Regions from separate parts of the Homo sapiens genome. Here regions 2, 3 and 4 are each linked to region 1. Evidence: fine-mapped expression QTL. A gene starts in region 1. Each other region holds a variant in brackets. All regions are shown on one strand. Distances are between the middles of the regions. Region 1 holds the start of ABCC1 (ATP binding cassette subfamily C member 1 (ABCC1 blood group)). Region 2 overlaps ABCC1 (ATP binding cassette subfamily C member 1 (ABCC1 blood group)). Region 3 overlaps ABCC1 (ATP binding cassette subfamily C member 1 (ABCC1 blood group)). Region 4 overlaps ABCC1 (ATP binding cassette subfamily C member 1 (ABCC1 blood group)).

Region 1 (7,867 bases):
ATTACAGGCGTGAATCACCAGGCCCAGCTAATTTTTGTATTTTTAGTAGGGATGGGGTTTTGCCATGTTGGTCAGGCTGGTCTTGAACCCCTGACCTCAGGTGATCCGCCTGCCTTGGCCTCCCAAAGTGCTGGGATTACAGGCATGATCTACTACACCCGGCCCTCTTTTTTTTGAGACAGGGTCTCAGTCTGTGGCCCAGACTGGAGTGCAGTGACCGTGATCTCAGCTCATTGCAACCTCCACCCCCACAGCCTTCAAGTGATTCTAGTGCCTCAGCCTCCCTAGTAGCCGGGACCACAGGTGCCACACCACCATGCCAGGCTTTTTTTTTTTTTTTGGTATTATTAGTAGAGACGGGGGTCAATCCATGTTGCCTAGGCTGGTCTCGAACTCCTGACCTCAAGCAATCCGCCTGCCTCAGCCTCCCAAAGTGCTGGGATTACAGGCGTGAGCCACTGCACCCGGCCTGCTTTTTTTTTTTTTTTTTTTTTTTTTTTTAATGAACTCACAAAAAGTCCCAGGCCCATTTTTCCAACCATCATGCCAATATCAACCACAAAGCAGCGCCTCCTACCAGTCCCACCCCCATGAGAAAAGAAAGCCAAGGGCTGCTGTGACCTGTCCTCAGGCCCTATTTTCCGTTTTGATAGCAAAGTTCTCCTTTTCTCTTCCCAGAGCATCTGTCTGAGTAAAGGTCAACAGAACACTTATCATGGGCCATTTCCATCTTCTGGGTTTTCTGGACATTTCCTGCGGCTCAGAGGCAGACAGTAGCCCAGAAACAAAGCTCTGACAGAGTCACCCGAGGCCCACTGACCTTGACTTCTAAGCACATGACCTTGGTCACAACAGGAGCCAGGCACGGGTGCCTCACTGCCTTTTCACAGCCCAATCCCATCTCCACCAGCTGAAGAAAAGGGGAATCCAAAGGAAGAACAAGGAGCTTAAAACACACAACTTCATCTTTGGAAAAAATAATATTTAATACTAACCATTGTTTATCTCCGTGCAGGGCACAAGCTGAGCCACTTACAAGATTAACTCATTGACCCTTCGCAACAACCCAAGAAGGCTGCCACATTTTTGGCTCCTGTCCAATTTTAGAGATGAGGAAAGTGAGGCACACAGAGGGAAAGTGGCTTGCTCAAGGTCACACAGTTATCTGACTGCCTGGGAGGCCAGTCGCTCCTGGCCTCGGACACGCTACCTTGAAAAACACAAAAACAGCCGGGCACAGAGGCCCATGCCTGTAATCTCAACACTTTTGGAGGCCAAGGCAGGAGGATCGCTTGAGCCCAGGAGTAGGAGACCAGCCTGGGCAATATAGTGCGAATCTGTCTCTATAAAAAATACAAAAATTAGCTGGGCGTGGTGGCACACGCCTATAGTCCCAGGTACTTGGGAGGCTGAGTTAGGAGGACCACTTGAGCCGGGGAGGCAGAGATTGCAGTAAGCTGAGATCGTGCCACTGCACTCCAGCCTGGGTGACAGAGCAAGACTCTGTCTCAAAAAAGAAAAAGAAAAAAAAAAGAAAAGAAAAAAGCAACAACTACCTACTTTCTAGCTTTCAGTTAATTATATTTCAATTTTCCCACTCAGGCCCCAGTTGCCTCCTCTCAAATTCTGGTTCCAAGGCACCTCCAACAAGTCTTGGAATCCAGACAGCAGAAATACGCAAGGTCAAACACGGGGATGGGGTACCTACCAGAGGCAGAGATCAGCTACAATTACCCCCAAGCAAAACCCAACCACCTGGCAATTTCTGTGGCAGAAAGTCCTTAACGAAGGAAAAAATAAAAAGAAAAAAGAAAATAAAAATTTTAAAAAATATTACAACTGGACTTCGTGAATGAGTTTCTTAAGATAAACAAAGCGCACCCCAAACATACTCATTAGCCATCAACTACCAATTGCCATCAATAAAATACGTCCTGATACAAAACCTCATGGATGTTCACCCTGTTTTGCCCCCTCCTCAATTCAGAAGAAAATAAACAAGAGAATATTCTGGAATTCACAGCAACACAAACCCAGATCACCATGTGAATCTTTGCAAAAAATAATCTTGCTGTTACTACACCTGGCAACAAGGAAGCCACAGGTTTTCCCCTGCTAAAGAAAGTCCATCTGCAAAGAGGCTCCAATCACCCCCAGACCCTCAAGGCAAAGTCTGTGTTCTATTTCCACCCCTGGGGTTACTCTCCAACCCCACTGGCTTAAAATGGGAGATATATCAAAGTGTGGTAGGTTATTAAACACAATGATACCCTACTAAAAAAAACAAACAAACAAAACCAAACCCTCCAATGGGGCCCTGGAGGATGACTTTTCAACACTCCAAATGCAACCCTCGAGGAAAGGCCGGCAAAACAGGACAAGAAAGTATTTTTGGAAGCTGATCACCAGCTCCTAAGAACCAAGGCTGTTTCTCCTGATTCCTAAACAAAAGAGGAGAGAGAAACAGTCGTGTCCAGATTTGCCTACTGCGTTCACCAACAATCAAGACAGCACGAGACAGAAGTGCCTGCCTTCCTGGAACAAAGAGGCAAATCGCATTACGGAGAAGCTGAAGCCCAAAAGACTGGGGCTTAAACCACAGCAAGTGGACTCCAGACACCCAGTCAGGCTCCGCAGGCCACGTTACAGAAGAAAACTTGCCGGGGTTAAATCTAAGGGGCATCCCCAGAGAGGAGCTCCACGTGTTGCAGGGAAGGGAGGGCAGGACCACAGCTACCAGGGTCCTGGGCGTCCTCAGCTGCACCCCAAGTCTGCCCCGAGCCGAGGGTCAGGTAGGGCACATCAAGGGTGGACATCCCCCTTCTTCCCTGGTTCCCCCAAACTTCCCCCGCAGTATCTAAGTAGAAAGAACAAAAAAAACAAAGCTAGGTAACCACAGAAGAGTAATGTGGCTTGTACGACAACTTTGGGGAGACAATGAAAGTCCCTTTCTACAATCTAAGCCCCTCCCCAGCTCACCCCGTTGGTCACGGAGTATTTTTCGTGAAAAGGGGGGACCCTAACCACAAAAAAGATGGGAAAACAGAAGCAGAGAGACACCCCTCTTCCCGCCCCCCATCTCTAGCGTCCCCTTCCCTGGAAGGTTGTTTTTACAGACGGGAACCCCAAAACAGGAAGGCCTCCTCACGGCGGCTCTGACCCGACCCGACCCTCCAAAACCCCAGGGCTGGGCACGCGGCCCCCCACGCTCTGCTCCGCAGGAACTGAGTCACCCAAGTTTCCCCCATGCCTTGCACCCCCGAAAGGGGCTGGGCCGCGGGCGACGTGAGGGTCCCGGGCCCCCGAGGCCGGCAGCAGAGCGGGGAGCGGGGTGCCCCGGGCGGCTGCGGGCCCGGTGCTTTCCCTCCCCGCCGGCCTCCCTCCGTCCCGCCGGCCTCACGCGGCCCCCGGCACGTACCCAGAGCGGGTCGGAGCCATCGGCGCTGCAGAAGCCCCGGAGCGCCATGCCGGTGGCGCGGGCGGCGGCGGGCACCGGGCGGCGGGTGATCGGGCCCGGTTGCTGGCGCGGGCGGCGGCGGGCACCGGGCGGCGGGTGATCGGGCCCGGCTGCTGGCGCTAGCGCTGGCGGCGGCGGCGGCGGCGGCGCAGGGAGCCGGGGCCGGGGCCGCAACGCCGCCTGGTTGGCCCGCGCGTCACGGGGATGCGGCGGCCCCGCCCCACCCCGCCCCGCCCCGGCGCCCGCTCACCTCGCGCGTCTCGGCGTGGGCAGCCGGACCAGCCACCTCTCGGCGCCCCGGGCCTGGACCCCGCGCCACCCCCACCCCAGATCCTCCAAGGCTTAGGCCCACCCGCTCGCGGACGGGCCTGGGGAGCGTTGGCTCGCCTTCCGGAAGCGCCTGGGATCTTTGGGGCCACACACCCTGCGACCACTTTTCAAATGCTGTTTAAGGACAGTATCCGTCACCAGGGGAAAATAACGTGAACGGAGCCCCCTACCTGCCTGGAGTGTACCGGGCGCCTTAACTGTGCCCTCATTTCATCCTGTAAAGTCTCCACGTTCATGAAGGAAGAAACCCAGGTGCAGAGAGGTTGAGTGATTCCCTCTGCCCAGGGTCACCTGGCTAATCACTTGCAGGGCTGGGATTTGAACCCGGTCCGCTGACTCCAAAGCTGAGTCACACAGAAGGAGGTGAATACTGTTATTCACCTACCTTTTACAGATGGGGAAACTGAGGTTCAGAAAGGCGAAGTGACTTGCCCGAGGTCACACAGTTAATAAGGAGTGAAAGTGGAAGTGAGATTCAAACCCGTGAGCAGCCTGATTCCGGAGCACTGATGACCCAGACGGCGCCAGTCTCCATCACTAACAGCTGTTGACCTCACCTGTGTGCAGAGCGCCTTTGCTTCTTCTCAACCTCTTTAAGCATCACTTAGAAATAACCAGGTTATTGATCCTCACCTCAGAGGTAAGGAAACTGAAGCCTGGAGACATGATAATCGTAGGCCAGGCATGGTGGCTCGTGCTTGTAATCAAGCACTTTGGGAAGCCGAGGCGGGCCGATCACATAAGGTCAGGAGTTCAAGACCAGCCTAGCCAACATAGCAAAACCCTGTCTCTACTAAAAACACAAAAATTAGCCGGGCATGGTGGCGGGCACCTGTAGTCCCAGCTACTTGAGAAGCTGAAACAGGAGAATCACTTGAACCTGGGAGGCGGAGGTTGAAATGAGCTTAGATCACACCACTGCACTCCAGCCTGGGCAACAGAGCAAGACTCTGTCTCAAAAAATAATAATAAAAAAAATTAATATGCATTCACAGTGACAAGGCTTCCTAAGGCTGTGTTCTTAGCAATTTACACAAATTAACTTGTGCAATCCTCACAACCCCATGAGGTAAGAAGTAGTATTATCCCCATTTTGCAGATGAGGCCACTAAGGCCCAGAAAGACAGAGTACATTGTCAGGGATTATTTAGATGGTAAGTGATTAAGCCAAACTTTGAACCCAAGAAGTCTGGCCAGGGAGGTGGGAAGTCTATAATACCATCCATTGCGCCATATTAGTTTTGAACTGTTTCATAGGCAGACAGGTAGAGACAGAGGAGCTAGGGCGAGGCCGCAGAGTGTAAATTTCACTGTGATACCAGCGATGCCTTTCTTTTCTCCTCTCCTCCTTAATCTCCTGCCTGATGTGGGTTTCCATAACACATGCACACAACAGCTGCACCAAATAAAACAGAAACAGTGTGTGCATTTGAGACCTCCCCCCAATCAAAGGACCTAGCGAGGGAAGGAGGAAGGAGGAAGGTAGATAGGATTGTTTTCTGTGATTTTTTTATTGGCCCGGGTCCCCCAAGGGTGAATGAGTTTCTAAGGGATAATTACTTTCATGTAATAATGCCAGTTATGCTGTTGCTTGACCTTTATACTGTCAACAAATATTTATTGAGCATTTACTATATGCCAGATGTCTTGCTAGGAACAAGATAAAATTGCTACTCTTATATAGCTTAAAGGATTGGAATTTTTTTGGATTGGGATTTTTTTAAGTGTTTCTTATGGTAAGATGGCAGATGTTAATCAAATATTATATTTTTGAAAGGGTATTTACAGGCCAGAAGTAGTGACTCACGCATGTAATCTCAGTGCTTTGGGAGGCCGAGGTGGGAGGCTCATTTGGCCCAGGAGTTCAAGGCTACAGTGAGCTATGATTGCACCGCTGCACTGCAGCCTGGGTAACACAGCGAGATCCTGTCTCAGGAAAAAAAAAACAAAAAAAAAAGCCAGGGAAGGGGAGATATGTACAACTATGGTCACAGCTAGAAAAAAAAAGTGGTGGCCGGGCATGGTGGCTCACGCCTGTAATCCCAGCACTTTGGGAGGCCAAGGCAGGCAGATCACTTAAGGTCAGGAGTTCGAGACCAGTCTGACCGATGGTAAAACCCCATCTCTACTAAAAATACAAAAATTAGCTGGGTGTGGTGGCAGGCACCTGCAGGCTCAGCTACTCGGGAGGCTGAGGCAGGAGAATCACTTGAACCTGGGAGGCGGAGGTTGCAGTAAGCCAAGATCATGCCACTGCACTCCAGCCTGGGCGACAAAGCAATACTCTATCTCAAATAAATAAATAAATAAATGTAAAAATACAAAAATTAGCTGGACATGGTGGTGGGTGCCTGTAATCCCAGCTATTCAGGAAGCTAAGGCAGGAGAATCACTTGAACCCAGGAGATGGAGGTTGCAGTGAGCTGAGATGGCCCCACTGCACTCCAGCCTGGACGACAAAGTGTGACTCCATCTCAAAAACACAAACAAAAAAAGTGGGCAAAAGTGGGCCTAAGTTAGCAATTTATACCACCCTTGCTGGGGGGTGGAAGTCAGAGAAGGCTTCCTGGAGGAAGAGGCTTTCAAACTGAGATACAAGGAACGCGTCTGGGTTCCTTGGGCCTGGGTTGTGTTCTGGGCAGAAGAAAACAGTTTATAGCAAAGTTATGAAGCAGGGAGGGTCCTTGGAGGAAACTGAAGACAGCCTGGATGGCAGGAACCCAGAGAAGAAGCAAAAGAAATCCATCCGGAGCAGGTGGGGTCAGAAGGAGCCAGGGCAGGCAGGTACCCGTCGGCCAAAGGAGGGGCAGTGGGAACCACTGGTGGGTTTTAGGCAGGGCACAAGACAGAGTTGGATTTCTTTCCATGTTTTATTCATTCACTCTTTATTCATCCTTTCAACAAATATTTATTGAGCAAGCACATGAAAACATGCTCAACTTCATTAGTCATCAGGGAAATGCAAATAAAACCCCAGTGAAATACCATCATACACCCACCAGAGTGACTGGAAACAAAGACTGAAAATTACGAGTGCAGACAAAGACGTGGATTAACTGGAAAAGGCACGCTCTGTTGGGAGGTATATAAATTGGCTTAACTACTTTGGAAAACTAACAATTTGGCTGGGTGCAGTGGCTCATGCCTGTAATCCCAGCACTTTGGGTGGCCGAGGCAGGTGGATCTCTTGAGCTCAGGAGATTGAGACCAGCCTGAGCAACATGGTGAAACCCCATCTCTACAAAAAATACAAAAAGGTGGGCCAAGGTGGGTGGATTGCCTGAGCTCAGGAGTTCAAGACCAGCCTGGCTGACATGAGGAAACCCCATCTCTATTAACAATACAAAAAAATTAGCCAGGCATGGTGGCACATGCCTGTAATCCGAGCTACTCGGGAGGCTAAGGCAGGAGAACTGCTTGAACCTGGGAGGCGCAGGTTGCAGTGAGCTAAGATCGCGCCACCGCGCTCCAGCCTGGGCGACAGAGTGAGACTCTGTCTCAAAAGTAAAATAAAATAAAATAAAATTAGCTGGGCGTTGTGGCACATGCCTATAGTCTCAGCTACTTGGGGAGCTGAGGCACAACACTCACTTGAACCCAGGAGGCACAGGTTGCTCTGAGCCAAGATCGCACCACTTCACTCCAGCCTAGGTGACAGAGTGAGACTCCATCTCCAAAAAAGAAAGAAAACTAATAATTCGTGCTAAAGTGAAACATACAATTACATAGTGACACAGAAATTCCACTCGCCTCCAAAAGAAAGGTGAGCTTACATCCACCAAAACACATCTACAAAAAATGTTCATAATAGCAACAATATGTATGAATCCCACAAAACACAACAAGGAGCAAAACAAGGCAGACACAAAAGAGCATATTTGCCATGATCTCATTTACACGATGTTCAACAATAGGCAAAACTAATATACATTATTCAAGAGCCAGGCACTGTGGCTCATGTCTGTAATACCAGCAATCTGGGAGGCCCAGGCAGGCGGATTGCTCATCAGGCCAGAAGTTTGAGACCAGCCTGGGCAACATAGTGAGACCTCATTTCTACAAAACAAATTTCTTTTTTTT
Region 2 (7,867 bases), 23 kb before region 1:
GTAGTGCAATCTCGGCTCACTGCAATGTCTGCCTCCCAGGTTCAAGCAATTCTCCTGCCTCAGCCTCCCGAGTAGCTGGGATCACAGGCATGTGCCATCACCACGCCTGATTGATTTTATATTTTAGTAGAGACGGGATTTCACCATTTTGGCCAGGCTGGTCTCGAACTCCTGATCTCAGGTGATCCGCCCACCTCAGCCTCCCAAAGTGCTGGGATAACAGGCGTAAGCCACCGCGTCTGGCCTCTGTTGAGTTCTAAGTGTCTCTTTCTCTCCTACCTGTCATTTCCCCCCAAAGCAAGACCATGTCCATTTAATTCTCCTGATGCATATAGGACATGCTTATTAAACACTCATTCAACAAATAAAAGGTGGCCAGGTGTGGCGGCTCACGCCTGTAATCCCAGCACCTTGGGAGGCTGAGGCGGGCAGATCACCTGAGGTTGGGAGTTCCAGACCAGCTTTACCAACATGGAGAAACCCCGTCTGTAATAAAAATTCAAAATTAGCCAGAGATGGTGGCGCATGCCTGTAATCCCAGCTACTCAGGAAGCTGAGGAAGGAGAATCGTTTGAACCCAGGAGGCAGAGGTTGCTGTGAGCCGAGACCCCACCATTGCACTCCAGCCTGCGCAACAAGACCAAAACTCAGTCTCAAAACAAAAAAAAACAAAAAAAACAAAAAAAACCACCACAAAACATAAATAAAAGGTGATTAAATCTATCTGAAGAGCAATCCAGAAAGCAGGCAGAGAAAAGCCTAACCACGCATACCCCATTTTCACCCAACAATCCTACTTTAGGGACAGGAGTCTAAAGGAAATAACTCCAGCAAGAAAAGGAACAACGTGTACAAGCTGGGCCATTTCACAACAGCAAAAAACCAGGAGAACTCCCAAGCACCTAAGAGCCAAGCAAACTGGGGCAGATGATCCGATTAAAAAATGACCCTGCTGTCACAAAACGAACTGTGCAACCTCCTGCACCCCAGGAGAGGCCACCCCTAAAGGTAGCAGGTAGCACTAGCCATGGGGCTTACATTCTTGGGCGAGGATTTTTAAACCATGTGTAAAAGCAGAACGAGAAATACAGCAGGCAACATCTCTGACTGCCGAAGAGCTGTGCTTAAGAGTGAGGGGGAGGCTGGGCATGGTGGCTCACACCTGTCATCCCAGTACTTTGGGAAGCCAAGGCTGGGGGGGATCACTTGAGGTCAGGCATTCAAGACCAACCTGGCCAACATGGTGAAACCCTGTCTCTATTAAAAATACAAAAATTAGCTGGGCATGGTGGCAAACAACTTGTAATCCCAGTGACTTGGAGGCTGAGATGGGAGGATCACTTGAACCCAGGAGACGGAGGCTACAGTGAGCCGAGATCATGCCACCGCAGTCCAGCCTGGGCGACAGAGTGAGACTCTGTATCATAAAAAGAAAAACAGAAAGAAACTAGAAGCTATTATTATACTGCATTGATTCTAAGACTCTGTTTCTTCCTATTTTGCTATCTTTGATATTTGTCTGTGTCTCTCGATTAGCCCATCCTGTAAACACTGCTGGCTACATTTTTATATCCTAACATCTCTGAAACTGGGAAGTATGTCATAAATACTGGCCTCTAGGATTCCATGAAACGCAGCATGTCCATATCAACAGCCTGGTCTCTCTAACTGAATGATTAAGGGATGGTGAGAGGCTTTTTTCTAAGTTTCCAGAATTAAGAAGGAAAAGTTAAAAAATTCCCTTACTTCTTAGCCACGCCAACTCAAGGAGACAGGCAGTCACCACACCCCCCACTCCCCACTCCCACTCTGTAACCGCTCAATTAACTTTAATGGGGGTCTGAGCATCATTGTCAAGCTACCTGACCAGGCCAGCTCAGGCAAACCCACCAGCAGCCTGATCTCTGATAATCTCAAGCTGCCTTCTTGTCTCCACAAGGCCCATGCCCAGGCCAGGTTTGTTTTTGCCAAACCGAGGCAGACAGGAGAAAATAAATAATAAAATCTCCCACTTGCCAAAGCACAGCCCTTTCCAAAGCATGTGGTCACCAAGAGGCCCTGATTCCTGCCAGGTCCCAGGAATACTCTCTGCAAGGTACAGTGTTCTTTTAGAAGCACTCACATAGGATTTGCCTGGCAAGAGGGCTATCATTTCAACCACTTCAGCTTCAGGGTCAATAAGCTGTGTCCTCACCAGTCTCTATAAGGGACATATCTTGAATTCATATGCACATTCTTTTTTTTGAGACAGGGTCTCACTCTGTCACCCAAGCTGGAATACGGTGGTGCAATCGTGGCTCACCGCAGCCTCAACCTCCCAGGCCCAGGTGATCATCCCACCTCTGCCTCCTGAGTAGCTGTGACCATGGCCATGCACCATCATACCGGGCTAATTTTTTTTTTTTTTTAATTTTGTGTAGAGACTGGGTCTCGCTATGTTGCCCAGGCTGGTTTCAAACTCCTGGGCTCAAGCCATTCTCCAGCCTTGGCCTCCCAAAGTGCTGGGATTATAGGCATGAGTCACCACGCCCAGCTCACATGAACATTTTAAACTGCATCACACGATTGCTGGAGATCTGATAGTATCTTGAGAATGGACCTTGAAAACCAACAAGCAGGCTACACCATTGCTGATAGTCACCCAGGAGAAAACACAATCACGATGGACATATTGCAGCATTACCCTAACATGGCTTGTATATAACTCCTGGCAGCAGGTGGATTGCGTCCATGCCAGGGTTTCTCAACTGCAGTACTACTGACATTTGGGACCAGAGGATTTTTCATTATGGAGCCCATCCTGTATTGTAGGATATTTAGCACACCCCCTGGCCTCTACCCACTAGACTCTAGGCGTGCGCTCCCTGCCCCATCGTGACAGCCAAAAATGTTTCCAGACATTGCCAAATGTCCCCTGGAGACAAAATCATCCAGAGTTAAGAACCACTGATAATAGGCGATTTAAAGAATATCTTTTTTTCTTAGTAGTGCTATATTTACTTTAATAGCTATTAAAGTAAGCACATAAATATAACCAACCTGTGACTTCAAAGACATTCTAAAGTGATATGAAACTTCCTTTTGCGATAACTTTGTTAAGGCTTAAAAAGTGAATTGATTGAAAGAAAAACATTAGCTGAGTGTGATGGCTCATGCCTGTCATCCCAGCACTTTGGGAGGCTGAGGTGGGCAGACGACTTGAACTCACAAGTTCAAGAGCAGCCTGGGCAACATGGTGAGACCCCATCTCTACAAATATAAAAATTAGCCAGGTATGGTGGTGCATGTGGTAGTCCCAGCTACTCTGGAGGCTAAGGTGGGAGGATAGCTTCAGCCTAGGAGGTAGAGGTTGCAGCGAGCTGAGATTGTGCCACCACACTCTAGCCTCGGCAACAGAGCCAGCCAGACCTTGCCTCAAAAAAAAAAAAAAAAAAAAAAAAAGTTAAAAAATAAGTACATGTTGGACAATATTGGCTGGCTTACTCAAAAGTTTCTCCCTTGCTGTTTCCTCCTAGAGAAGCATAAAACCAAATGCTCATTTTTCCTGCCTCCCTTGCAGCTAGAGGTGGTCATGTAATCCAGTTTCAGCCAAGGAGACATGACCAGAAGTCTGCAATGTGGACAGAAGAGCCTTTGAAGAAGGCTTGGACTTTCCTGAATAGAAAGGAACCCATGAGGCTGGTGCAATCCCTCCCTCTTCCTACCTTGAACCCAGATATATTGCCTAGGGCTGTAGCAGCCATTTAGGGGCCTTGAGGAAAAGACAAGAAAACAGCAGAGATGTCAGTCCTAACAACCCTGCATCACTAATCCAATGCCAGCAACTCCAAGAGGTACTGGAATTCCTGACATGTAAAAAATAAACAAATGAATACCTTTCTGCTTAGGCTGCTGAAGTAGGGCTGTTTCTTGAAGCCAGATGCAATCCTAACAGATACAAGGTAAGAGATAGATGTCAAAATCCTGAAGACTAGACTCAAATGACTGAGGGGCAAAACAGCTGGGGAAAGGGCAGGCTTTGAGTCAACCTGCTGGGTTTGAATACCGTGTCCACTCCTTGCTAGTGACATGATCCTGCGCATGTTTAACTGTGTCACAGATTCCCCATTTAAAATAAAAAGTCATTACAGCAACCACCCAGCATGACTGTGGGCCTGAAACAAGTTATGTGCAGAGAGGGCTGGGCATACCACACAACACAGAGTGACCTCAACGCATGTTATTTTATTTATAAAATCAACTCCTGGAGGTTCCGTCTCTCAGCTTTGGAGCCCCCCACCCTCTGTCTCTGTACAGGGGACCTTCTTCCTTCTCCCTTCCTTCTTGCCTATTAAACTCTCCACTCCTTAAAACCACTCCACGTGTGTCTGTGTCATTTTATCTAAACCGGCATGAGGACCAAGAACCCTGGTGTTCCCCCACTCATCGGAGCCGTATCATTTTGGTGTGTTGGCCAGGAAAGGAAATTATTTCATCAGACTGAAGCAATCAAACTCAAAATGGTGCTGTAACCTGAAGCACACATGGACACGCCATTCTTCCGAGGACCCTTAGATCCACCCCAGGAGGAGCCCTAGCTGCTGTTCCCCATTCAACGCCCCTTTTCACCAGGAAGTAGCCAGAAGAAGTCGTCGCCCAAAACCCCCTAACAGCAGTTAATGTGGCATCTCCACAGGGGGTAATG[T/C]AGGAGTTAAGCAATTATTTTAGGCAAATAGAGAGGAAAAGGGGTCCTTGGGAAATGTTTGGTTTTTAAAGCAACTCCGGAAAAGTTTCTTGTAAAGCCCCGGCTCTTAGAGCCAGGCCAGCAACCTTTGATATGCAAATGCAAGCCATTAGAAACTGGGTCCACCCAAACATGGCGATTCCCACAGCCTTCTTGCCCTTTCCCCACATGTTCCTAGCAACATGGCCGCCACCACACCTCCCCAAGTGTGCAGATCATGGTACCCTGCATTTGCATATTAAAAGGCTAGGTGGGAGGGCCAGCTTTTTCATGCGCTACGTGAAAGACATGCCTAGTCAAACCAATCCCCTGAGGCCTATGCAAATCAGACACTGCCTCTTCCAGCCTCTGTACATATACCTAGCTGCTATCTGTGGCAGCTGGGGTTCCCTCTCTCAGCTTTGGAGCCCTCCTCCGTCTCTATACAGGGGATCTTATTCTCCCTTCTTTCTTGCCCCTTCTTGCCTATTAAACTCTCTGCTCCTTTAAATAAACAAACAAACTCTTACCAAAGTCACACAAGCAAGATGGGGATAAGGCAGACTAGAAGTGATTAGTCATTGGTTCTTTCCAACACTTGAGAAGGAGTTGTCTTTAGGGACTGAGTTGAAGGCCAGGTATAATGGCTCACACCTGTAATCCCAACACTTTCGGAGGCCGAGGCAAGAAGATGGCTTGAGCTCAGGGGTTTGAAACCAACCTGGACAACACAGGGAGACCTCATCTGTACAAATTAAAATATATATATAATTTTAAAGAAATAATTGTGTTGTAAATATCCCTGTCTTAGAGCTAATGCCTAAGCAAGGAGGGGGGAAAGAAAGCTGCCAAGGCTTCCCACAGGATCCAAGTCCTACAGGCCCAATTCTCAGCCTCCTTCTGGTTCTTTTTCTCTTCCCTACTCTTTGACTCCAGCCACAGTGGCCTTCCTCATTAAGCCAGTGCTTCTGCACATGCATTTCCCACTGCCCAGAACATTCTTACCTTCTGCTTTTGCCTATACAGCAGAAACTGCTAGCTGCGCTCCAGTATCAACTCTCCCTCATCCCTGAGTAACATCTTCAGCTGGGTACATCCTGCTTAGAAAGGAAACTACATTTCCCAGCCTCCTTTGCAGCTAGAGGCACCACATGACTAGGTACAAGCCAATGGGATGTGACGAGGAGAGACGTAGGCAACCTCCAGGTTGTGCCCTTACTCTGCTTTCCTACTGGCTGCCATGTGGACATGGAGATGCATCATCTTGATCCATGCAGATGAGGACAGCAGAGCAACAAGATGGGAGGGGCCTGGGACCCTGATTATTTTGGGGACAGAGCTGCCACACCAGCTGGGATTTTTACATGAGAGAGAAATGAGCTTGTATCTTAACCCACTATATTTGGGGTCTTTGACACACATAGCCAAACCTGTATCATCAAACGGGTTCCCCACTTAAGGAGTCTCCTTTTTTCTCTCCAACCAGATGAAACCCCGCTATTGCACTCACCGGGCACCACGCAGCTCCCCTTCATAGCACTTCCTGATGATTATTCATTTATTTGGCCATTTCCCCAACAAGACTGGGGCTCAAGGAAGGCAGGGAACCATGCTCTGTATACCGCTCGATTCCCAGCATGGAGCCCAGGTAAGGGCTATGCAGGACCCTCAGAGACTGTCACCTGAATGGGACCAGTCAGGCCATGGGACCCATTCATGGGCACTGACCCTCGGAGATTCTACCTCCTGCAAAGAGCTCCTGAGAGGGTCTAAGATACCCACTCACCCAAGTCTTGCCTCGAATTTCCCCAGGACCTACCTGTACACAGAGGTTTAAAAAAAAAAAAGACTATGGGCTGGGAGCAGTGGCTCAAGCCTGTAATCTCAGCACTTTGGGAGGCAGAGGCAGGGGGGATCACCTGAGGTCAGGAGTTTGAGACCAGCCTGGCCAACATGGCAAAACCCGTCTCTACTAAAAATACAAAAAGTAGCCGGGCGTGGTGGCACATGCCTGTAATCCCAGCTACTCGGGGGGCTGAGGCAGGAGAATCACTCGAACCCTGGCAAAGGAGGTTGCAGTGAGCCGAGATCACGCTACTGCACTCCAGTCTGGGCAACAAGACAGAAACTCTCTTAAAAAGAAAAAAAAAAAAAAAAAAGACTGACCAGCTGCCTAAAGAGGAAACAATTATCAGCAATTACTCAGATCCATGTTACATTTCATCTGCAATTAAATATCAATTAACAAAAATGCATCATAATCAAGATGCACCAGCCCACGCAAACAAAAAAATAAAGACTATATGTTTTGTTTTGTTTTTCTGAGACAGAGTCTTGCTCTGTTGCCCAGGCTGGAGTGCAGTGCCATCATCTTGGCTCTCTACAACCTCCTCCTCCCAGGTTCAAGTGATCCTTATGCCTCCCCCTTCCCAGTAGCTGGGATTATAGGCAAGCGCCACCACAGTTAATTTTTGTATTTTTAGTAGAGATGGAGTTTCACCATGTTGGACAGCCTGGCCTTGAACTACTGACCTCAAGTGATCTGCCCACCTCGGCCTCTCAACGTACTGAGATTACAGGTGTGAGCCACCACACCTGGCTGACTGTTTTCAATACAAAAAAAAAAAAGAAAAAATATTAGCTGGGCATGGTGGTGGGCACCTGTGGTCCCAGCTACTCCAGAGGCTAAGGTGGGAGGATTGCTTGAGCCTGAGAGGTCATGGCTGCAGTGGGCCATGATCGTGCCCCTGCACTCCACCCTGAGCAACAGAGGAGATCCTGTCTCAAAATACACATATATATGTTTTTGTAGAATCCCGTTCTTGTTCTTAAAAAATACCATGTATTTATGGCTGGGCACGGTGGCTTAGACCTGTAATCCCAGCACTTTGGGAGGCTGCGGCAGGTGGATCACTTGAGGTCATGAGTTTGAGACCAGCCTGGCCAAAATGGTAAAACCCCATCTCTACTAAAAATACAAAAATTAGCTAGACATAGTGGTGCATGCCTGCAGTCCTAGCTACTCGGCAGGTGAAGGCTGCAGTGAGCAGAGATCACGCCACCTGCACTCCAGCCTGGGTAATAGAGCAAGACTCTGTCTCAAAAAAAAAAATTACTATATCTTTAGGATCTGTGGAGAAGAGAGGCTGAAAATTAAAAACATCA
Region 3 (6,408 bases), 110 kb before region 1:
ATTTTAGGAAAGTGCATTAGGTGGACGTGGTAAATGCCAGGTTTGCCATTCCAGAAAAACAGTCCCATCAGTCCCTGGATGGCATCCCTGGCCTTCCCCGGCCTCTGTGTTCCATCACACCTACCGCTGGGTAAACACCTCATCGTCTTTGAAGCACAGGAATGCACACCAGTGGAAAAAACACTCAGGCACCTTCCAGGGGAACTAAAGGCCACATATTTTATCCTAATGTAGTCAGAGGCTTCGATGCCTCGGCCAGGACAAGGTCTCCCCAGCTGACACCCAGGCCCATCTGTTTCTTGCCAAACAGCTCAACAAACTCTGTCTCTGGAAACTCCGGGAAACTAAATGGCAAGAAAGCTCAAGAAAAGGTTAAGTAAAGCCGGTAGCCGGGCTCAGTATTTCACATCTGTAATCCCAGCTACTCCAGAGGCTGAAGCAGGAGGATCGCTTTAGCTCAGGAGTTGGAGGTTGCAGTGAGCTGTGATCAAGCCACTGTACTCCAGCCTGGACAGCAAAACAAGACCCTGTCTCTTTAAAAAAGAAAGAAAGAAAGAAAAAAGAGAAGAAAAGCCAGTCCTGCTCTTAAGCATCTTCTGCTGTGGTTTCCTAATGGGGAACAGGGCAGGAAGTGATAAGCAAAGTTTGGTGACAGCCTGGAAACTGTGGGTTTTGCCAACGAATCCAATGTGCAGAGCAAAAAGCTGTGAGAACACGCTGCCCATCCCCTCCTAAGCGGGACACAAGGCACAGACCAAACCTCATCACCAGCGCCCTCTGGCTTGTATCTTTTCCTCTGAGACAAGACCTTTCAAAATGCCATCAAGGCCAGGTGCAGTGGCTCATACCTACAATCCCAGCACTTTGGGAGACAGAGGCAGGCGGACTGCTCGAGCTCAGGAGTTTGAAAACATCCTGGGCAACAAAGTGAGACCCTGTCTCTGCAAAATTACAGAAATTAGCTGGGCATGGTGGTGCATGCTTGTAGTCCCAGCTGCCTGGGAGGCTGAGGTTGGAGGATTACTTGAGCCTGGGAGGCAGAGGTTGCAGTGAGCCAAGATCATGTCACTGCACTCCAGCTTGGGCGGCAGTGTGAGACCCCATCTCAAAAAAAAAAAAAAAAAAAGAAAAAAAGAAAAAAAAAGCCATTTTGTATGTATTTATGTATGACTCTTACTATCACTTGTATAAAAGTAAAGTAAACAGAATCAAGTAACCATAACTACATGTATGACATGTATCCACCATTACAGTGATACAGACGTGGACTCTGGAAAAACACACAAGAAACATGGAGAGAGGGAAGCAAGGTGACTGGTGTTAGGAGGAAGGGCTTGGGCCTTTCACTATTGACTGTGGTTCTCAACTGGGAGAATTCTGTCCCCCAAGGGGACACTTCGCAATGCCTGGAGCCATTTTCTATTGTCACCACTGGGAAGAAGAGGGAGAGGTACGACTTAGCATCTGGCAGGTAGAGGCCACAGATGCTGGGAAACATCCTGCAATGTGCAGTCCAGGCCCTACAACACAGGGACAAAGGATGACCTGTTGGCGAATGTCAGCAGGCTGAGGTGGCCACGTGCGAAGTCCGGCTGTATGAATACCATCTGGTGCAGCTTTAATTATGTTTCACCATATGCAAATACATTACTTCCTACTTTATAAAGTAAGACCCACCGGGCATGGCGGCTCACACCTGTAATCCCAGCACTTTAGGAGGCCGAGGTGGGTGGACCACTAGAGGCCAGGAGTTTGAGACCAGCCTGGCCAACACGGCTAAACCCCATCTCTACTAAAAATACAAAAAATTGGCTTGGCATGGTGGCGTGCGCCTGTACTCCCAGCTACTCGGACGCTGAGGCAGGAGAATTGCTTGAACCCTGGTGAAACCCCGTCTCTACTAAAAATACAAAACTTAGCTGGGCATGGTAGTAGGCGCCTGTAATCCCAGCTACTCAGGAGGCTGAGGCAGGAGAATCGCTTGAACCCAAGAGGCAGAGATTGCAGTGAGCTGAGATCGTGCCAATGCACTCCAGCCTGGCGAGAGAGCAAGACTCCTTCTCAAAAAAAAAGGAGAGTCCAGGCGCGGTGGCTCACGCTTGTAATCCCAGCACGTTGGGAGATCAAGGCAGGTAGATCACTTGAGGTCAGGAGTTCGAGACCAGCCTGGCGAACATGACAAAAACCCATCTCTACTAAAAATATTAAAATTAACAAGGCATGGTAGTGCATGTTTGTAATCCCAGCTAGTCGGGGGACTGAGGCAGGAGAATTGCTTGAACTGGGAGATGGAGGTTGCAGTGAGCTGAGATGGCACCACTGCACTTCAGCCTGGGTGACAGAGTGAGACTCAGTCCCAAAAAAAACAAAAAAAGAGAGAGTTCATCAACGCACCCCGGTAAAGTCAAGGTATTGGAGTGTAAGAAGAATGCAATGTACAAGGCAGAATGCAGGGGCATTGGAGCTGGAAGTGATCTTAGGGAACATGGAGTTACAGAAGGGCAACAAGATGTCATTTCTTGCTCAACTCTAGGCCACTGGCACCAGTCACCTGGAGGGCTGCTTGAACATAACTCAGTGGGAAAGAACCCCATGAGTGACTGTGGGTGTCTGCTGTGGGCATGAGGAAGGAGGACAGGGCCCAGTATTTGACATGCTTGGAATCTAACCCCTTCATTTTCCATGTGACAAAATCTAGAGCCAGCGAGGTGAGATGACCAGCTTTGGGGTCACACTGTGAGCTGGCAGTAGAATGTGGCAGGTGTCCTGATTCTCAGAAGAACATTCCAGTCCTCTAAGCCAGGGGCTGGCCAACAAGGATGGCTCAGGTCCACATTTGGCCCACACCTGTTTACATACGGCCCATGAGCTCAGCATTGATTTCATTTTTTTTATTTTTTTTGAGACAGAGTCTTGTTCTGTTGCCCAGGCTTAGAGTGCAGTGGCGTGACCTCAGCTCGCTGCGATCTCCGCCTCCCGGGTTCAAACGATTCCCGTACCTCAGCCTCCCAAAAAGCTTGGATGACCAGCATGCTCCACCACACCTGGCTAATTTTTTTTTGTGGGGGGCTGGGAGGGGGTGGGGGGGCAGCAGCAGGAAAGGGTCTCACTCTGTTGCCCAGCCAGGAGTGTGTGGCATGATCTTGGCTCACTGCAACTTCTGCCTCCTGGGTTGAAGCGATCCTCCTGCCTCAGCCTCCCGAGTAGCTATGACCACAGGTGCGCACCACCACTTCCAGCTAATTTTTGTATTTTTAGTATAGACGGGGTTTCACCACGTTGGCTAGGCTGGTCTCAATCTGCTAGCCTCAAGCAACCCGCCCGCCTCGGCCTCCCAAAGTGCTGAGATTACAGGCATGAGCCCCTGCGCCCAGCCAGATTTCATATTTTTTAAAAGTTAAAAAAATCAAAACAATATTACATGACACATGCAAATTCTATAAAATTCAAATTTTGGTGTCTCTAAATACTTTTTTACAGGAACACAGCCACACCCATCGATTTCCATATTATCTAAGGCTGTTTTTGCACTACGCTGGAAGAGACTGGTATTTGTGACAGAGACT[G/A]TATGGCCCGGAATTCCGAAAGTATTTACAGAAAAAGTTTCTTTACTCCTACTTTCTGCCAGTCTCTCTCGAAATTTAATGTGCATACACACCACCTAGAGAACTAGTTACAACTCAGATTCCGTTTCAGTGGATCTGGGCTGAGGCCTGAAATTCTGCACCGTTAACAAGCACCAGGTGATGCCATGGCTGCTGGTCCACGGACCAGACTTTAGGCAGTGAGGATCCACTCCGGTGTCTCTACATGTCAACCTGAACCAGAAGCAGCAGCACCTAGGGATATGTTAGGAAAGCAAATACTCAGGCCCCAACCAGACCTACTAAAACTGAAAATTTGGGTGGGGCCCAGAAAGCTGAGTTTTATAGTAACAAGCTAACAGCCAGCACTGTGGCTCATGCCTGTAATCCCAGCACTTTCGGAGGCCAAGGCGGGTAGATCTCCTGAGGTCAGGAGTTCGAGACCAGCCTGGCCAACATGGTGAAACACCATCTCTACACTAAAGATATTTTAAAAATTAGCTGAGCATGGTTGCTGCATGCCTGTAATCCCAGCTACTCAGAGGCTGAGGTGGAAGAATCGCTTGAACCCGGGAGGCAGAGATTGCAGTGAGCCAAGATAGTGCCATAGCAATCCAACCTGGGTGACAGACTGGGACTTCATCTCAATAAATGAATAAATAATAAAATATAATAACAAGCTCTCCAGGTGATTCTGATGCAGGCTTGAATTTGAACACCATCTCTCCTGCAGTTCCAGACCCTGAGAGAAGTAAGGCAAGACTAAGAAAATTCAGTGGGAGCATGAACACGCTTTCGCAAATGCTGAAACAGCTGGAGCTTCCTTAGACATTCCACCTGAAACTCAACAAAGATGAAGCAGATGGTAGTTTAACAGAAAAGTTCATATTCATAAACATGTTTAACTCTGCTTCACAGAAACTTGCCAGAAAAACATATAATTTGCCAACCTGACCAAGAAGGAATAGTTGTAATGAGCACAACATTACAAAAAGAATGACACAGTTAATAAAAAGACAGAAAGAAAAAACAAACATGGGGCATGATCTGAAGTCATCCTTCACCATTAACTGTTTTTAACTGTGCTTAAAAAGGGAATTTCCAAAGTCCATCTCTGTATGGTCTCCTGATTTGCGGCCAACTTTGCAAATTGTAAGTTGCACTGTTGTCTTTAAACTTTTCAAAGCCAGCTAGGCAGGGATAGACCCATTACCATACCCCAGGACAGGTACCAGAACTTTCAGTGTAGCATGGATCATAACAGCAAAAAAAACAGGGAACAACCTGTTTTTGCAAGGAATGGGAGAAAGGGTAATTCCAGCAGGGCGCATCTGCACGTCAGACAAGCATCCATCATGAACACAAATGAAACAAGCTGGGAGTGGTAGCAGTGCACCTGGAGTCCCAGCTACTTAGGAAACTAAAGCAGGAGGATTGCTTGGGCCCAGGAGTTCAAGGCTGCAGTGAGCTATGATCGCACCACAGTACTCCAGCCTGGGGGACAGAGCGAGACCCCATTTCAAAACAAAACCCCCCAAAAAACTAAAATGAAGTAGACCAGAATGAACGAACCAAGACTATATATTGTTAACCAAAGAAAAGAGAACACTATGTACAGTATGATTCCATTTATATCTGTCAAAGTATTTTTAAATACCTATATGCTTGTCCATTTTTCTCTAAAAGCGTACACGAAACTGTCACTTTAGAAGGGAGGAACTGATGGAAGAGAGGACAATATACTTTTCATTTTATATCTTTCTGTATTTTTTTTTTTTTACAATGGATGACAATATTTGTTCAGCACCTGCTATGCACTGTTTTATATACTGAGGATACAGCAGTCAAGAGAAACGACAAAAATGCCCATCTGGAGCTGACATCCTAGTGGGGGAAAAGCAGACAATAAAATAAGTACATTTTATTTTACTTATTTTTTTTTTTTTTTACTTTTTTGAGACAGGGTCTTGCTGTGTTGCCCAGGCTGGAGTGCCGTGGCTCGATCTCGGCTCACTGCAACCTCAGCCTCCCAGGTTCAAGGGATTCTCATGTCTCGGCCTCCTGAGTAGCTGGGAATATAGGCATGCACCACCATGCCCAGCTTTTTTTTTCTTTCTTTTTTTTTTTTTTTTTTAAGCAGTAACAGGGTTTCACCAGGTTGGCCAGGCTGGTCTCGAGCTCCTGGCCTCAAGTGATCTACCCACCTTGGACTCCCAAAGGGCTGGGATTACAGGCACAAGCCACCGCACCCAGCCCAAAATAAGTAAATTTTAGAGTGTGTTTAGACCATGCCACTTGACATGTGGCCTATGAGACACTGACAATCCACACTTTGTGACCAGTTGGTGACAAAATAAGGACGCAGCACCACAATGTAGATCAACTATGGCACCAAGCGTGCCGTTCGACTCAGCTCGCACTTTTTGTCTTGCAAGGCTATCTTAATGCAGGAAGCAGGGGGCACTGGTTTACATTCTGGCACAAGCTCCTTATATCACAGTAAATAGATAACGAACGGTTCCTACACAGGTTGGCTAGAAGCTGCTAAGTGTGAATAAAACAAAGGAGAATGGAGAAGATGGCAAATGTTTAAACCAAGTGTTCAGGGAAGGCCTTGCTGACATAGTGACTTTTTTGTTTGTTTTTGAGACAAGGTCTTGCTCTGTCGCCCAGGCTGGAGTGCACTGGCGTGATCTTGGCCCACTCCAACCGTCGCCTCCCAGGTTGAAGTAATTCTCTTGCCTCAGCCTCCCTAGTAGCTGGGACTACAGGCATGCGCCACCACACCCGGCTTATTTTTTTGTATTTTTAGTAGAGACTGGGT
Region 4 (7,867 bases), 140 kb before region 1:
TAGGCAGGACTGACAAAGCTGCTTTCTAAAGCAGACCTGAGAGGGGGTGAAATCCACTCCTATTTTCTCCTAGTCTGAGGTATTTATCTGCAGTGTAAACATCCAAAGCCCTCCGGCCTACCCACTGCTTATGCAGGACATGCCTTGAACAGCCAAGGTGCGATTCATCCACTCATTTAACACATTTACTGAGTGTCTACTATGTGTCAGGCTCTTTTCTTAGTCCTGGGGATGGAGAGACAACCAAAAAGCCCTCAGAGCAGCCGGGCACGATGGCTCATGCCTGTAATCCCAGCACTTTGGGAGGCTGAGGCGGGTGGATCACTTGAGGTCCGGAGTTCAAGACCAGCCTGACCAATGTGGCACAACGCCGTCTCTACTAAAAATACAAAAATTAGCCGGGCGTGGTGGCAGGCATCCGTAATCCCAGCTACTTGGGAGGTTGCGGCAGGAGAATCACTTGGACCCAGGAGGTGGAGGTTGCAGTGAGCCGAGATTGCACCATTGCACTCCAGCCTGGGCAACAGCGTGAGACTCCCAAAACAAACAAAACAAAACAAAACAAACAAACAAAACCCTCAGATCTTAAATTCCAAAGGAAGAGATCAACAATAAATGAACAAGTAGATCCATAATTTACTCCAGGCAGCAATAAGTGCCACAAAGTAATCAAAGCAGGGAAGAAGAGGGACATGAAGGCTGGGGGCCAGGGTGGAGAATGCTATAAAGTAGCAAGAGTTCTTTCTTTTTTTTTTTAAAGCAAACACACGAAACTTGTAATTCAGTGACTGTCACTGAGTTCATGCAACCACCAGGTGTTGGGTTTTGGATGCTGTCAAGCCAGGTGCTGTTTCTACCCTTGACCCACGTACGTTAAGTGCTGCCCCGGGTCTGTGTATTCCGTTGCCAGTCCTCTCACTGTTTATTCCACCAACACTGCCTTTACTCAAGAAGGTTCTGGAACTCTGCTTGGGCAAGGTCCAGCAGGCCAGCCTCCCCGGAGGGAAGAATTCAACTCACAGCTTTATAGTCAACGCCTCATTTTTGACCAAAAACGGCATTCACTGGCTGCCTCACTGACCTCCTCCCCCAGCCTCGGCAGAGAAAGCTCTTCATCCTCAAAAGAGGAAGAAATCCGGCCTCTGAGGACAGCCAGAAGGAATGTGGGGGTCTGTCTGATGAACTCTCTCGGCAGCTGCTCTGTGCTGACAACTAATTTGTGTAACTTGGGGAGGTGCTTATGGCCCACTGTTAAGAAAAGAAATCAAAAGGTGGCAGGAGATGAGAAAACTCTAAGATATACTCTCAATCTTGTCAAGGGAGAAGGCCTAGGAAGGAAGGACAGGTGAAAAAGATGCCAAAGCTAACAACAGCTCCCCTTCTGGGCAGTGAGGGCAGAAAGATGTTCTTTCTCGGGAGTTTTTTTTTGTTTTTTTGTTTTTTTTTTGAGACAGTCTCGCTCTGTTACCCAGGCTAGAGTGCAGTGGCACAATCTTGGCTCACTGCAAGCTCTGCCCCCCGGATTCACGCTATTCTCCTGCCTCAGCCTCCTGACATTTCTGTATTTTTAGTAGAGATGGGGTTTCACCATGTTGGCGAGGCTGGTCTCGAACTCCTGCCCTCAGGTGATCCGCCTACCTTGGCCTCCCAAAGTCCTGGCATTACACATATGAGCCACCTTTTTTCCTGATTCTTTGTACTCTTTTGTAGTTTGCAAATGTCTACGATGAGCACATGTTGCTTTTATAATCATTAAGAAAAACTCGGTAAATACTTAAGAGGGAAAAATATTTGCCATGAGGTTAACAGATGGTTCAAGCAAGGTTTTGAAAAATGGCCACGGGCCAGGTGCCGCGACTCATGCTTATAATCCCAGCATTTGCATTTTGGGAGGTCAAGGTGGGAGGATCGCTTGAGCCCAGGAGTTCGAGACCAGCCTGGGCAACAGACTGATATCCCATCTCCATAAAAAAACATAAAAATATATAAATAAAATTTTTTAAAAGAGAAAAATGGCCACATTGTTGGAATAAAGATCCTTCTCCCAAGAGGACAAGGGAAGAATTCAGCAGTGTGAAGTCGGAGCACACAGGGTTTCTTGCTCGTGGTGCTTTGGATGTCCTGGCAAGGGGATTCCCTGTCACGGGGGGCAGGGTAAGGGGGAATTCGTCTTGAGTGCTGTAGGATGTTTAGCGACATCGCTGGCCTCTACCCTGCTTGCCTGCCAGGGGCAAACCCCACTCCAGTTTTGACATCCCAACATGTCTCCAAACATTGCCAACTGTCCCCAGGGTGGGGGCAATTTGCCCCTGATGGAAAACCACTGCTCTAGGTATTAGGTTCCTAAGAAAGAAACCAGAGTCATGAAGATGTGTTTTACCTTCCAGGTATGAAGGTTAATGAGCCATTTTTTTAAATCCCTTAAAAATTTGTTCCCCTAAGGGGCTTGAGGCAATCTGTGAAAATGGTTCACTATTCACTTTATCCAGAAAACACCACAGAATCATGCAGATCAAGAGGTTCAAATCTTCGTGTTCACCTTAAGAACATTTGTGAGGCCGGGCATGGTGGCTCATGCCTGTTATCCCAACACTTTGGGAGGCTGAGGCAGGAGGATCCCTTGAGGCCAGGAGTTTGAGACCAGCCTGGTCAGCATGGTGAAACCCCATCTCTACTAAAAATACAAAAATTAGCTGGGCGTGGTGGCACATGCCTGTAACTCCAGCTACTCGAGAGGCTGAGGCACAAGAATTTCTTGAACCCGGGAGGTGGAGGCTGCAGTGAGCCAAGATCGTGCCACTACACTCCAGCCTGGGCAACAAGTGAGACTCTGTATCAAAAAAAAAAAAAAAAAAAAAAGGCCAGGCGCAGTGGCTCACGCCTGTAATCCCAGCACTTTGGGAGGCCGAGGCGGGCGGATCATGACGTCAAGAGATCGAGACCATCCTGACTAACACGGTGAAACCCCGTTTCTACTAAAAATACAAAAAAAATTAGCTGGGCATGGTGGCGGGCGCCTGTAGTCCCAGCTACTCGGGAGGCTGAGGCAGGAGAATGGCGTGAACCTGGGCGGCAGAGCTTGCAGGGAGCCAAGATCGCGCCACTGCACTCCAGCCTGGGCGACAGAGCAAGACTCCGTCTCAAAAAAAAGAAAAAGAAAAAGAACACTCCTGAAAGCGCCCAGGCCATCAAAGGTATGCACGTACAAAAGGCCACAAAGTATCAGAAAGATGCCACTTTACAGAAACAACATGTACCATTCTGACATTATAATGGTGGAGTTGGTAGATGTACCCAGGCCAAGAAGTGGGGCTGGCCACAAGGTCGGCGGCCCAAAAAGAGCACTGAATTTCTGCTGCACATGCTTAAAAATACAGAGAGTCACACTGAACTTAAGGGTTCAGATGCAGATTCTCTGGTCCTTGAGCATATCCAACTGAAGAAAGCACCTAAGTTGCGTCGCCGGACCTACAGAGCTCAGGGTCGGTCGGATTAACCCATACGTGAGCTCACTCTGCCACATCCAGATGATCCTGCCTGAAAGGGAACAAACTGTTCCTAAACCGGAAGGGGAGGCTGCACAGAAGAAAAATATATCCCAGAAGAAATTGAAGAAACAAAAGCTTATGGCATGGGAATAAATTAGGAATAAAAGGAATGCCATTAAAAGTTAAAAAAAAAAAAAAAAAAAAAA[G/AAG]GAGAGAGGGAGACAAACAGTAAAAAAGATATATTTCTTAGAAATCAGTAAACTGAATATCCCGGGAGAGAGGTCGGTATGGCCCCATTCACAAGCCTGGTTCCTGCCCATCCCCCCTCAAGGATTCTCCCAAACCAAATACCAACACCTGCACCCCTTCAGCCTGGGTGTTCTAAAAAAAAGAGCTGATTAATCCAACAAGGAAAAAAGTTCCCCTTTAGGAAGAGCCAAAAATGTGGTTTAAACAAACCCAAGGTCATTGGCGCTTCGAGTTGGCTAAGGCTGGGCAAGACCAGACCCTGATGTCAAGACTTTATAGCCAGGGCCCCTCCAGAGCAATGGAAAAGGGTGGGTGGTGAGAGAGGGGGGTGCCCCAGTTTGATGTAAGACCCACTGCCAAGGACTTCTATGTAACCTCAAAGGCAGGAGGTAGGGAGGTCAAACTGGGAAAATGAACGCACGAGGTGCCAGGGTGGTGGGCGGCATTTGCATCACCAAATTAAGTGCTGATGTGTACAAAAATCACAAAGCATCTGGCAGCCTTCCATGTTCTGTATACACTGCTTGGATACTCTAGCAGCTGGGAAAGAAAGGCGGGGGTGCGGAACCTATCTGGGGCCAAGAGAGTTTAAGGACATTTTTTGCTCACCTGGACGGAAGGGTAGAGAGACAGACCTCACGCTGGGCAAAAGATTCAGCTAAACCCACACATTTTGATTTAGAGAGCACAAAGGGTATTGTCACCTAAAAGTAGCCTGCCAAGCAGGTCAGTGAAAAAGTCACCGAGAAGTTGCCACAATGCATTGCTCGGGCTGAGAGATAGACAAAGGGGGATTCTGCAGCAAGAAGAAACAGGCTAGACTCAAGGTAGAACTTCCCAACCACAAGGGAATGAACATGCAGAAATTCAGTCTAATCAAATAATTTAAAAGCTGAAGGGAATGTCAGCTATCATGCACTGGCAAGAAACAAAAATCCAACTGTATTTTGAGACATGGTCTTGCTCTGTCACCCAGGCCAGATGGAGTGCAGTGGCATGATTTTGGCTCACAGCAGCCTGACTCCCAGGCTCAAGCGATTCCCCCACCTCAGCCTCCCGAATAGCCGGGACTACAGGTGTGCACCACCATCCCAGCTAATGTTTGTACTTTCAGTAGAGACGAGGTTTCACCATGCTGCCCAGGCTGGTCTTGAACTCCTAACCTCAAGTGATCCACCCGCCTTGGCCTCCCAAAGTGGTGGGATTACAGGCACAAACCACCACACCCGGCCACCAACTTTTCCTTTAAAACCACCAGGGCTCATGACAGCAGTATTCACAAGAGTCAGAAAGTGGAAAAAACCTGAATGTCCATCAACCAGTGAACAGATCAACACAGTATGGTCTATCTGCACAATGGCATATTATTCCGCAATAAAAGGAAATGAAGCTACAACATAGACGAACCTTGAAAACACCACGCTAAGTGTAAAAGCCGCCAGTCACAACATTCCACCTATTGTGATGGCATTTATATGAAATGTCCAGAATAAGCAAATCTAGAGAGACAGAAAGATTAGTGGTTGCCTAGGGCTTCGGAGGTGCTGGGGAAAATAGGGAGTCATGGCTGATGGATTGGGGTTTCTTTTGGGGGTGATTAAAAAAAGTTCTAAACCTGACTGTGGTGATGGTTGGATTTTGTGATTTAAGTGGGTTAATTGTATGTTGTATGAATTTTTGTTTTGTTTTGTTTTGTTTTTCTGAGACGAAGTCTTGCTCTGTTGCCCAAGCTGGAGTGTAGTGGCACGATCTCGGTTCACTGCAACCTCCGCCTCCAAGGTTCAAACTATTCTCCTGCCTCAGCCTCCCCAGTAGCTGGGCCTATAGGCGTGCGCCACCACGCCAGGATAATTTTTGTATTTTTAGTAGAGACAGGGTTTCATCATGTTGGCCAGGCTGGTCTCCAACTCCTGACCTCAGGTGATCCACCTGTGTCAGCCTCCCACAGTGCTGGGATTACAGGCGTGAGCCACTGCGCCCAGCCTACGTGTGTGAATTACATCTCAAGAAAGCACTTATTAGAGATCACTAGGACCTCTGCAGAGAAGGAGCTCCCACCCCAGGCAAAGGATGAGAAACTCAGAGACCAACTTGAGAACCAACCCTGCCAGCAGCTGCTGTGTATCCTGGGGCTGGTCACTTTGCCTCTCTGACACTCAGTGGCTTCCCAGGGCAGTTAGACCAAAACCCACCTGGAAGGCCCTGCAGGACAATCACTGTGCTGACCTCTTCTCCTGCCCCCCACGTCCTGGCACACCATGGTCTGGCCACACCACCCTTTTTGTTTTGTAAACAAATTGAGCTCATGCTGGTCCTGAGGCCTTTGTACTGGCTGTTCCCTCTGCCCACAACACTTCCCAGATCTTCTCCCTGCTGGCTCCTTCCCATGCCAATGCAACCTCCCCAGAGAGGGTTTCCCTATCCCCTGCCTGAGTTGCCACAATGACACCCATCACTCCTCAGCCCATGGCATTGTCTTTTTTGTTTCCCCTCCAAAGCACTTAATAGCATCTGAATTTTTTTTTTTTTTTTTTTGTAGAGTTGGGGTTTCAGTATGTTGGCCAGGCTGGTCTTGAATTCCTCCTGGCTTCAAGGGATCCACCCACCACGGCCTCCCAAAGTGCTGGGATTACAGGCGTGAGCCACTGTGCCTGGCAAATTTTTTGTATTTTTTGTAGAGATGAGGTTTCGCCATGCTACTGAGGATGGTCTCAAACTCCTGAGCTGGAGCGATCCTCCCACCTCAGCCTCTCTATGTGTTGGGATTACAAGTGCTGGGAACCACCACGTCTGGCCCTGCTGAACTGCTTTATGAGGGAGGAAAGTGAAGCTCAGATGGGTCTGAAGGGCAGGCCTCAGGTCACATAGCTGGGGAGATGAGCGGCCGGGGATTGAACCCAGACGTCACCAACCCGAGCCTGCCAGCTTAACTCCGTGCTTCACCTCACAACCCTCACATCTCTTGTGTCACGTATGTCCTCAGTTTCTCTCAGCCCCGAGAGCCAGGACTTTAATTACCATCATTCCCATTTTTGCCATAAGGACCCTGAAACTCATCAGGTCCAAGGTCATGTTCCAGGAAGGCGCTAGACCCTGCCCTGAGGTCAGCTGAGCTGAAGCCTGGTGCTCCCATCCCCTGGCCATAAAGCACCGAGACTCTCTCCCAGTTCAGCGCTGCAGGGACTAAGGTGGTTTTCCACATTGCTTCTTTAGGGGGCTCCATCCAGCTCCCACCCTCATGCCCTGAGGAGCCGCCTTCCCCAAGTGGCTGGTGGCAACCTCAAAGAGGCCAATGTGGCCCTTCAAGGTGCCAGACACCCTGAGTGGGTGGAACCCTGGGGCTGCCCCTACCGTTCTCCTCTGCATCCTGCTCCTGCTCTGTGCTGGCATAGGTACGCAGGAACTCAGCGAAGGCGCCGTCTCGAGCCAGCAGCTCCTGGTAGGAGCCCATCTCAGAGATCTTGCCGCCACTCATGACGATGATGACGTCCACCTGCGGCAAGTAGCTCATGCTGTGCGTGACCAAGATCCGCGTCTGTGGGCAAAGGGGACACCCGGCCACGTGAGTGCACATGTGTGAGACTGCCTAGCTTGGCAGAGTGAAGACTAAAGGAGGAATGAGCCGACGAACACCTGGTGGGCAAAACTCAGGTCTGAAGGTGGGACATGCACCCGCGATAACAGCATCCAGGAGCAGCTGAACCTGTGCACACGGTCCTGTAACATGCATGTGCAAAGGGCCTGCCACGCCTCAGGTGCTGAGCTAAAAGCTGGGGAAGGGGAAGGAAACAAAGACCCCTGCCCCAGATTCCAGGGCCGCAGGAGAAACGAACACTAGTAGAATAGTGCTTGCTGAATGGCAAAAACACAGCAAAAAGGGGAACGGGTGTACCAAGTGTGCGGGTTTTGCAATTTTAACAAAGGTAATGGGGAAGGTTATTTTTTAACAAAAACCTGAATGACAAGAGGTAGGGAGGGAACCATACAAGTGTGTAAAGGAATAAAAGGATGGTGCCACAGCAAAACAGTTTGTATGCAATGGCTTTTTTTTTTTTTTTTGAGACAGAGTTTCACTTTGTTGTCCAGGCTGGAGTGCAGTGGCACAGTCTCGGCTCACTGCAACCTCCGCCTCC

What was found. PIP is the estimated chance that this variant, and not a neighbour inherited with it, causes the effect. A credible set is the group of variants that fine-mapping cannot tell apart.
Region 2: its variant is the best candidate, but not a certain one, in a credible set for the expression of ABCC1 in monocytes after Pam3CSK4 (Quach 2016, PIP 0.64).
Region 3: its variant is the best candidate, but not a certain one, in a credible set for the expression of ABCC1 in sun-exposed skin (GTEx, PIP 0.88).
Region 4: its variant is the best candidate, but not a certain one, in a credible set for the expression of ABCC1 in whole blood (INTERVAL, PIP 0.73).

The regions. Positions count from the first base shown.
Region 1 is chr16:15,945,351-15,953,217 of GRCh38, reverse strand. ABCC1 (ATP binding cassette subfamily C member 1 (ABCC1 blood group)) reads right to left here and starts at 3,602. Exons shown (of 31, transcript NM_004996.4): 1 at 3,419-3,602. The coding sequence starts at 3,466. It overlaps LOC107984869 (a long non-coding RNA gene), which reads left to right and starts at 4,047. Exons shown (of 3, transcript XR_001752339.2): 1 at 4,047-4,427.
Region 2 is chr16:15,968,362-15,976,228 of GRCh38, reverse strand. All of the region lies in intron 1 of ABCC1 (ATP binding cassette subfamily C member 1 (ABCC1 blood group)), which reads right to left. Among named protein-coding and RNA genes, the nearest start is that of ABCC1, 23 kb to the right of the region's middle. RefSeq lists enhancers at 4,136-4,775, 4,776-5,414, 5,415-6,054. The variant T/C (reference allele first, on the strand shown) is at 4,685.
Region 3 is chr16:16,056,491-16,062,898 of GRCh38, reverse strand. The region is part of intron 12 of ABCC1 (ATP binding cassette subfamily C member 1 (ABCC1 blood group)); the gene reads right to left. Among named protein-coding and RNA genes, the nearest start is that of ABCC1, 110 kb to the right of the region's middle. The variant G/A (reference allele first, on the strand shown) is at 3,567.
Region 4 is chr16:16,089,807-16,097,673 of GRCh38, reverse strand. It overlaps ABCC1 (ATP binding cassette subfamily C member 1 (ABCC1 blood group)), which reads right to left. Exons shown (of 31, transcript NM_004996.4): 19 at 7,086-7,269. It also overlaps the pseudogene RPL17P40. Among named protein-coding and RNA genes, the nearest start is that of ABCC6, 130 kb to the left of the region's middle. The variant G/AAG (reference allele first, on the strand shown) is at 3,695.